Homo sapiens: one gene and its partner. The protein of the gene in region 1 purifies or fractionates together with the protein of each later gene. This does not show direct contact. Each region holds a gene or a part of one and is shown on either strand. Other genes may lie near its edges.

Region 1 (4,337 bases):
CATAGACACTTGGTGACAGCTGGTGCTAGAACCCCCACAGTGGCTGAGGGCATGCAGCAGCAATACTAGTAGCAAAGGGACAGATAGCTAAGGAAGGATCCCGCTCCACTCACCCAGGGAAATCAACTCCTGAAGTTCTGTTCGACCCCACATCAGAGGATCCATTGCAGGAGATGGCACCAGAGATCCCAGTGGTGTCCTCCCCTTAACAGGGAAAGAGGCTCCCCACTCTTGAGCCCACAGTGCTTGTGCCTCCACAAGACAAGCATATCCCTAGGCCACCCAGAGTAGACAAGAGAGGAGGACTATTCATATGATTAGTGGTCATTAACATATACTCCTTTGTGAGGTGTATGTTTCAATGTTTTGCTCATTTTTAATTTTTACCAGGTTGTCTATTTGTGATTACTTTGTAGATGGGTCTTTCTATATTCTGAAAACAAATCCTGGCTGGGTGCGGTGGCTCACGCCTGTAATCCCAGCACTTTGGGAGGCTGAGGTGGGCAGATCACCTGAGGTCGGGAGTTCGAGACCAGCCTGGCCAACATGGACAAACCCCGTCTCTGCTAAAAATACAAAAACTAGCTGGGAGTGGAGGCTGAATGTTTCACTCCGTTACATGTTAATTGCTCTACATTTAATTAGCCGTCTGTGGTGAGAGGCGAGAGGCTAGCGCCTAGCTCAGCGCACAGTCCAGGGCGTTCGCCCCCGCAGGCCGCGGGGCAGGGTGGCTCGTTACTCCGTGGACACTGCAAGGCGCCCTGTTCGCGCTGCGTCGACGCAGTAGTTTCTTCCCATAATAAACCCCTTCTAGATAAAGTCAGGCTGGCGGGAGCGCCCTGGACCGTAGTTCAGGCCCCCGCGCTCCGCGGTGGGAACAGTTCAGGACTCCCCCAACTCCTGCCCCTCTCGCCCCGACCCTCTCCACTCCGCCCGCCCACCATCTCGGAAGTCCCCTTGGGACAATGCGTAGGGGACCTCCGCGTCCCCGACACCCGACTGGGACACGGCCGCGGGCTCCTTCGTCCCTCACCGCCAGCCAGGGAGGCTCTGCATGCCCACGTCCACTTCACAGCCGAGGAAGCTGCGGCTCGCGGAGGTGCCTGGCACGCGGCGGGAAGCAGCAGAGCTCGCGCCCAGCAGTCAGCTCTGGTGACGCCGAGGACACCGCGTGGGCCGGGTTGTCAGGGCGCGGGGGCGAGAGGCGGGTAAATATTTGGGGCTGTAACCGGGGCTTCGGCGACTCCTCGTCACCGCGGTTCCAGGGCGGGCGCGTGGCGAGGGCGGTGCCTGGGGGCAGGGGCCTCCTCGGAGGGCGGCGGGGACAGACCCGTCGCCCCGGCTCCGCAGCCCCGCCCCGGCCCCGCCTCCGCTCCGGCCGCCGAAGGCTATAAGATCTAGGAACCCGAGCCGGTGGTAGGGCGGGCGCGGACCGTGCTGGGAGCGGCGCGGCTGGAGCGCAGCGCCGAAGGGACTGGCAGGGCTGAAGTGTGCGGGACAGCAAGCCCCCGAATAGCCCCGGCTGCCACCTCGCAGGACCCAAGGCCACGCGCGCCGGGCCCAGCTGAGCCGCCTCATGAAGCCGCCCGCGGCGCAGGGCAGCCCCGCGGCCGCCGCGGCCGCAGGTGAGTGCGGGGTCCGGGGTCCCCTTAAAGTCTCGGCTCTGCAGATGGCGGGTGAGAAAGGAGGGGCCCCGTGTCGTCCCTTCACACCCCCCACCCTTCCATCCTCCCCGGCGGGAACCTGTCCCCGGTCTTCCCGCGCGGGCGGCTGCAGCCTCCTTTCCGGCCCGGGCTGGCCCCCATGTCCCACCTTCCCTCCACCACCAGCTCCGCGCGCGCCCGGGGTTGGGGGGAGCGGCGGGGACAGGTAACCGGCAGCGCCTGGGGAGGAATCTGGCCGCGCCAAGTCGCTGGGTGACCCTGGGCCTGGCGAAGGCTCAGTTTTCTTGTCTGTAAAACGGACTTGGTAATAGAACGCACTTCGGGGGTGGTGGAGAAGATTACAAGGTAACAGCGACTGCGTGGCTGTCACTTGGCAGAGGCGCCAAGTGTCAGTTATCTTCGGGAACCGTGGCGGCCCCTCCTGGCCCTGGGAGGTGGTCCCGCTGCCCCCCTGACTTCCGTGCACTGAGCCCCTGGCCCTGCCCGCAGCCCCGGCCCTGGACTCGGCGGCCGCGGAGGACCTGTCGGACGCGCTGTGCGAGTTTGACGCGGTGCTGGCCGACTTCGCGTCGCCCTTCCACGAGCGCCACTTCCACTACGAGGAGCACCTGGAGCGCATGAAGCGGCGCAGCAGCGCCAGTGTCAGCGACAGCAGCGGCTTCAGCGACTCGGAGAGTAAGTGCGGCCCCCGCTAGGATGGCGCCGGGATCTCCCAGCTCCCAGGACCTGCCCCGCGAAGGCTGCGGCCTCAGTTTTCTTATCAGTAAACTGAGGAATGGTTTCCTGAAGCTCAACGCAGTAGGCCGAGTGGTGGCGGGGCCCCTGACGATAATCACGGGAAAGGTCGCTGGAGGGCAGGTTGGTTCACTTGCCGCCCACGGGTGTGTCACCAGGCAGGCGAGTTTAAGCAGCTTGTCCCGACTCAGCCAGACAGGACTCCCTGGACCTGCACCAGGCCTTTCCGCAGTTTCCCTCCTCTTCTCCTTTCCGTGCCTCTCCCCTCTCAGCTGTAACTTTGCAGATGTGGAACAAGTGCCAGTGGAATGAGGGGGCACAGTGGGGACATGGGAGGGCGCAGAACGGAAATATTCATGAAACCAGGAAAGGTTTCATAAGCCCAAACTGCTGTTCTTGGGATTTATGAAATAACTGCTTGCATTGTCTTCTGGCCCTTAGCTCTCAGACTTGTTGCTCCATTGCATGCAGTTATGAAAATCTTTGGCACTGCTGAGTTCAAGTATTTTTCAGCCAGGTCCTCCACCAGGCTGGAGGGGGAGCCAGAGAGCACATGGGCATGAAGGTGGTTCCTGGTGATCTTTCTCACAATGGAGACTACCCCAGGGTCTCTTTGTCCTGAACAACTTTGTCAACAACAGCAACAACAACAAAAACAACAAAAGAGACAGCTTTTTCCAGGAACTCACATGTCCTGGGAGGATTACAGGTACCTCAAACAGCAAATTAGGTGCCTTTTTAATATTACATGATTGTTGGTTTCAAATCCAGAATTGCTTATTGTTTTTCAAAGGGCAAAGTCAATTTTAAACTCTTCTGTGTTATTCTTCAGCCTTTAATCCTTAGATGGGTTACAGGCATGAATGTCACTCCTTTTGCTGCCCTTGACTCAGGACGTGAAAGTAATGGCCTTTCCGTGTGATTCTCTTATTTTGAAACCTGGAGCTCTTCCTTGTTCCTGGGCTAAGATTCGGGGCTAGACATGAACATGAGCTGCCCTTCTGCAAAGGGATAAATGCGCTCACCACCCTGGTCAGGGTTTGACTCAGGAAGCTGAGTTCCAGCTTGTTTCCTTGGCAGCACTGCCAAAGAGTTAGACCAAGCTGCAGCTTTTGAGGTGAAAGGGGATGGAAGAAAGTACTGTTACTTTTCCACTTAGAATTTTTGGACTTTGTTCTTAATGAATAGGTTCATTTTCAATTTCAAAGCAAAGTGTTAACATTTTTGAAATTTGTCTCAATTCTAAAGGCCAAACTTAAATATGTCTCCTCCTACTGGGGCATGGAGCAAGTTATTCATCAAATACAGATTCTCGCATGGAAAAGAAAGCTAGGATAGTGTGTCGCTGCTGCTCTGTGGCAAAGAACAGCTCCTTTCTAAGCAACAGCCTCACTCTACTAGAATAGGTCTGAGCGCGCCCATTCATGGCTGATTGCAACTTCCACTGGGTGGGATTTCAGATCTAGAATCTGTTTTCAGATGCCTTAAAGAGAAGACATAGAAACACATTCTTAACAGTTTCAGGGGAGATAGTTGGGATAGTTTGTAGTTTTGCTTAGGTTATATGTGTCTGTTTTCTGCTTTTGTTGTTAACGGACTAACCCTTAGTTTGGTGGTTAGAGAAGTGATGGGAAGAACATAAAGAAAGCTCAGATGACATTTGTCTTTGCTTTAAATGTGTAGTTTTTCTCTCACAAGGCTAGTCAGAAATATTGTTGGCAGAAGCTGTGTGTATCTAAATAGTAATTTCTTAAGGAAGCATAATATGTATATCTTAATTGCTGCCAAGAATTGAGTACAGACATTTGTTATCCTCGTTTGTCTGTTTAATGCTTTTCTATGGGAGAGAATGCTTAAGAGAGGTAGATACTACTGAAATTTAGCTCATCAAGAGGGAGACACACCAGGATAAGGATAATAACAGCAGCTCACTTTTAG
Region 2 (3,806 bases), on another chromosome or scaffold:
TCCACCCAACTTGTCAGAAAAGAGCCAGAACCCAAACAGTTACACGGGAAGAAAATGAACAAACCAGGCACTAAATAGCAAATGACTTCCTCTCCCCTAGGCATCCAAAACCAAGGGGATAGGTAGGGTCCCAAAAACGTACCCAGGCTCGGAAGCAGAATTAAGAACAGAGGAAAAAGACATCCTCTACTTTTTTCTCCAGAAGCAAACCTTTTCTTCCCAGAGCAAGAAGGACCACAGAGACCACAAATAATAAGGGGTTTGAGACTGTTAACACAGGAGTGGGACAGGGCTGAGTTGGTCCAGGCCTGGGTCCCCGCAGTGGCATTTCTGGGGACTTTGAGGATACACACAGGAAGGACAGGCAGGACCTGACAGTCTCAAGAACAAGGAGGACAGAGGACTGAGGACTGAGACTATGATGATCAGATCCCTTCTGCCCAGCTTCCTGTGCACTTTTATGCAGGACTGTTCTAGGCCCAGATGAAATGAGCGGAGCATGTGGTGAGTCCTGCCTAACTCCACCAGGGCCACATAATGAGGGTTATAAATACACAAGATATAAAGACACACATAATAAGACAGGCCCTGTCTTATTCACAGTGTGCACTCAGCACTGGGCGTCACCCACATCAGGCCTGTGATGAAAATCTATGTAATGAAGACATGAATGAATAAGACAATGAATGAATGAACCCCAGCCTGGCAGAGCTTTGTGTCCCAAGAGGAGCCTGCCTGACCCTCTTGACCTGGCTGGAGTCTCTGCTGAGAAACAGCCCCAGGGAGCAGAAGCTTGCCAAAATGTGCCAAAAAACCAAGGAGAATGTGCCAGCGTTTTCTCGCAACAGTTCCATCCCAAGACAATCATTTTCATGTGATGATTTTTAAGTGCTTACCTGGCTATGAAATCACCAGGCTGGGAATTCTCCGTCAACTGCTAAAAGCCAGGACAGAAAGGCAACGAAAGCTTTTTTTTTTCCCCTTTTCCCCATGTCCTTTCTTCGAAGCCACCACCAGGGGGCCTGCACCTATTCACAGAGCCATACACCAGCAATATTCTTTCCGGCTCTGTTTCCTTCTATATCTGGCTTTCAAAAGGGCAATTTATACATTCCCCCTCCTTCCCACAATTTAGGAGAGTGAAGCCATTCCAAGCTGGAAACTGTAATTTTGAAATGATGCAAAAAATTGAAGATAATGAAAAACATCTGAGTTCTGATACCTGGAAATGTCAGTTGCCTTATCCAAAGGCTCCTTTGTAGGAAAAAAAGCAACGATCAAGAGGGGGTTTTCTATCAGAAACAGCTGCTCAACAGAACAGACATCACCCCCAACCCCACCTCCCATCTCTCCCACCATCAAGGGAGGTCACTTATTTACTAGAACAGTCACGAACAAAGCATGAGATGGGAAGATAATTTTCCAGTCCCCTAGTGGCTCTAGCTATTGTTTGCAGTTAAAATGTACCTTCCAGGAATAAATGAAGAAACTCAAGGGTTTGCAAGCAAACTGCTCTGACAGTGTCTAACCCTTCACACACACACACACACACACACACACACACACACACACACACACACACACCCCACTACAAGCCAAGAGGGAGGAAGGACATGTTTGGACCATGAGTACCATGAGATCTTATGTGCTGAGAGCTAAGGAGAGCTTTAAGGATGATGTAGTTCATACCCCCACTTTGCAGATGGGAAAGTTTAGACAGGCTGAGCAACCTGACCAATGCGACTGAGTTAGTCAAGTATTAAAGCTTGGAATATAATTCAGGTCTCTTGATGCCGACAATTTAAAAAACAGCCAATGATCTCCCAGGGGAGACATAAAGACACACACACACACACACACGCGCAAATTTTAAAAAACCAAGTTAAAAAAAGGAAAGCAGAATCAAAGCTATGCTTTTCAAAAATCACGAATCTGCACATTATAAAAAGGCCTCCAATTACTCTCTATCCCCTAATAGTCCTGCTTTTAATCTCTCTCCACTGTCAGCTTTCTTATACGTAATATGATGGTAAATAATGCTAAAAAAACATGCCTGCACCACCACAGAATCATGACCACCCTACTCTCTGGGTTCAGGAAAATGAAAGAGGGGCTGCTGATACGAGAACCCCCTGGGCTGTCACTGCAGTGCTCCACATACCACATTCAACCACTAGTTACTGAACTAACTTGTGGCCCTGGAGCAGAAACTATACTGTTTTATCCACTTCCCTGGGTGAAACCAACAGGAAAGAAGGACACCCAAATCATCCAAAATTCACACTCATGTTTTAATATATTTCCAAAAACAATTTATTCCCACTGCCTCCCTACTCATCTTAAAGTGGAGCCTTCCCCATGTGACAGATACAACATGTTACATTCAATCTAACACTGATGCCAGGCACAGGGTTAAGTGCTCAATAAAAGTCTGCTGAATGACTTGATGAGCACTGCTTTTCATCTTTACGCTTTTCAGTATTTTCTGATGTTTCAAGAAGCATATATACTATTTTATAATCAGAAAGATATAATGCTACTTAAAAAAAATCTGTTTAATTCATTGCATTTACAAGTCAAAATGGACCTTACGTCTAAACAAGTCTCTACTGAAAAGGCTGTATGAGAAGACAGAAGATATTTTTAGTGGGGAAAGAACATGGAAATGAGCCAGTTTTATAAAATATCAGAGTGTCCATCACTCTCAGCTCCACCTCCCATGACCTAAGGACAGCACCAATTCTTTTGCTCAGCAAAAGTGGGAGGATGTCAGGCACATCTTCAGACTGCAATGACACTGTCTAACCACACACGAAAGCACATTGTGTCCCACTCCTACCTTGCAGCTGCAGCCAGGAGATTTTTCGCATTGGGAGCTCCTGGATCTACAGAGAGAGACTTGGCAGCTAACAGCAGCTTGCTGGATGCCATCGAGATATTCTTGAGGTTCCCTATCACTTGGATCTGGTCTTCTTTTGTCTGGAAGGTCAAAAGGAGCCGGAGCTATTAGGGCCTGTCCATTTCTTGAAGGAGGCATTCAGAGAGCTAGGAGCAGCATCCTGACATGCAGGCAGGTTATCCGTATAGATCACATTAAACCCAGTTAGCCCGCAGATGCCTAACTCGTTGAGACACTGACCAGTGTCTACCCTTCTCCAAACAGATGCTCAGATCAAGATGCATGCCACAGGGAAAGAAATCCATCCCCAAGTGGGTCAGCCAAGAGCTGTGCTTTTCTCACAACTAGAGGCATTAAGCGGGGAGCAGGGTGGGAGGAGAGTGAGCGAGCTGTGAGCCAATGCACAGACCAGGCAGCGATTCCAGCATCTTGCTCAACAATGCTGGAGTTGTCAAGGAGCTGTACATCTCGGCCTGGCACAAACGACCAGCACTGTCTCGATATTCAGAGCTGACTGCATCCCTGAAGTTCCTGACTCGGGAAAGCACACATTTCTCACCCGGTTGCCATCTGAGAAACAATTCTTTGTAGATACTAGAAGAAGATACACCCTGGTTATCTCTTTTAGGGAGGTCAAAGGAGCGCAGAAAAAAAAAAAAAAACAAAAAACACAGCTCTGCAAGCTGACACCAGATCAGTCAAGCTCCCTTGTTCTAAACAAGGGGTTTATCTGTTCATCTGAAGGAGGTAATTTTTAATCACTTGACACTCTGTATTAGACACAGACCATCTGAATGGTCCATTAAACCTCAAATACATATATATTTTTATTGTATTATCCCACATTTGAAGAGCTGTTCTAATCTTTGTTAAACATTCTCCCTCCTCCTACCCTCCCTCCAAATAG

What was found.
Region 2: the proteins of RGCC (region 1) and TLN2 purify together in Homo sapiens (affinity purification with mass spectrometry; 3 studies listed by BioGRID and IntAct, with this or other methods). This does not show direct contact.

Annotation. Positions count from the first base shown.
Region 1 is NC_000013.11:41,456,132-41,460,468, forward strand, and holds the start of RGCC (regulator of cell cycle RGCC), read left to right. Parts: upstream 1-1,418; 5' UTR 1,419-1,576; coding exon 1,577-1,625; intron 1,626-2,153; coding exon 2,154-2,339; intron 2,340-2,840; exon of another isoform or gene 2,841-3,108; intron 3,109-4,337. UniProt on the Homo sapiens protein: Modulates the activity of cell cycle-specific kinases. Enhances CDK1 activity. May contribute to the regulation of the cell cycle. May inhibit growth of glioma cells by promoting arrest of mitotic progression at the G2/M transition.
Region 2 is NC_000015.10:62,739,803-62,743,608, reverse strand, and holds part of TLN2 (talin-2), read right to left. Parts: intron 2,980-3,806; coding exon 2,840-2,979; intron 1-2,839. UniProt on the Homo sapiens protein: As a major component of focal adhesion plaques that links integrin to the actin cytoskeleton, may play an important role in cell adhesion. Recruits PIP5K1C to focal adhesion plaques and strongly activates its kinase activity.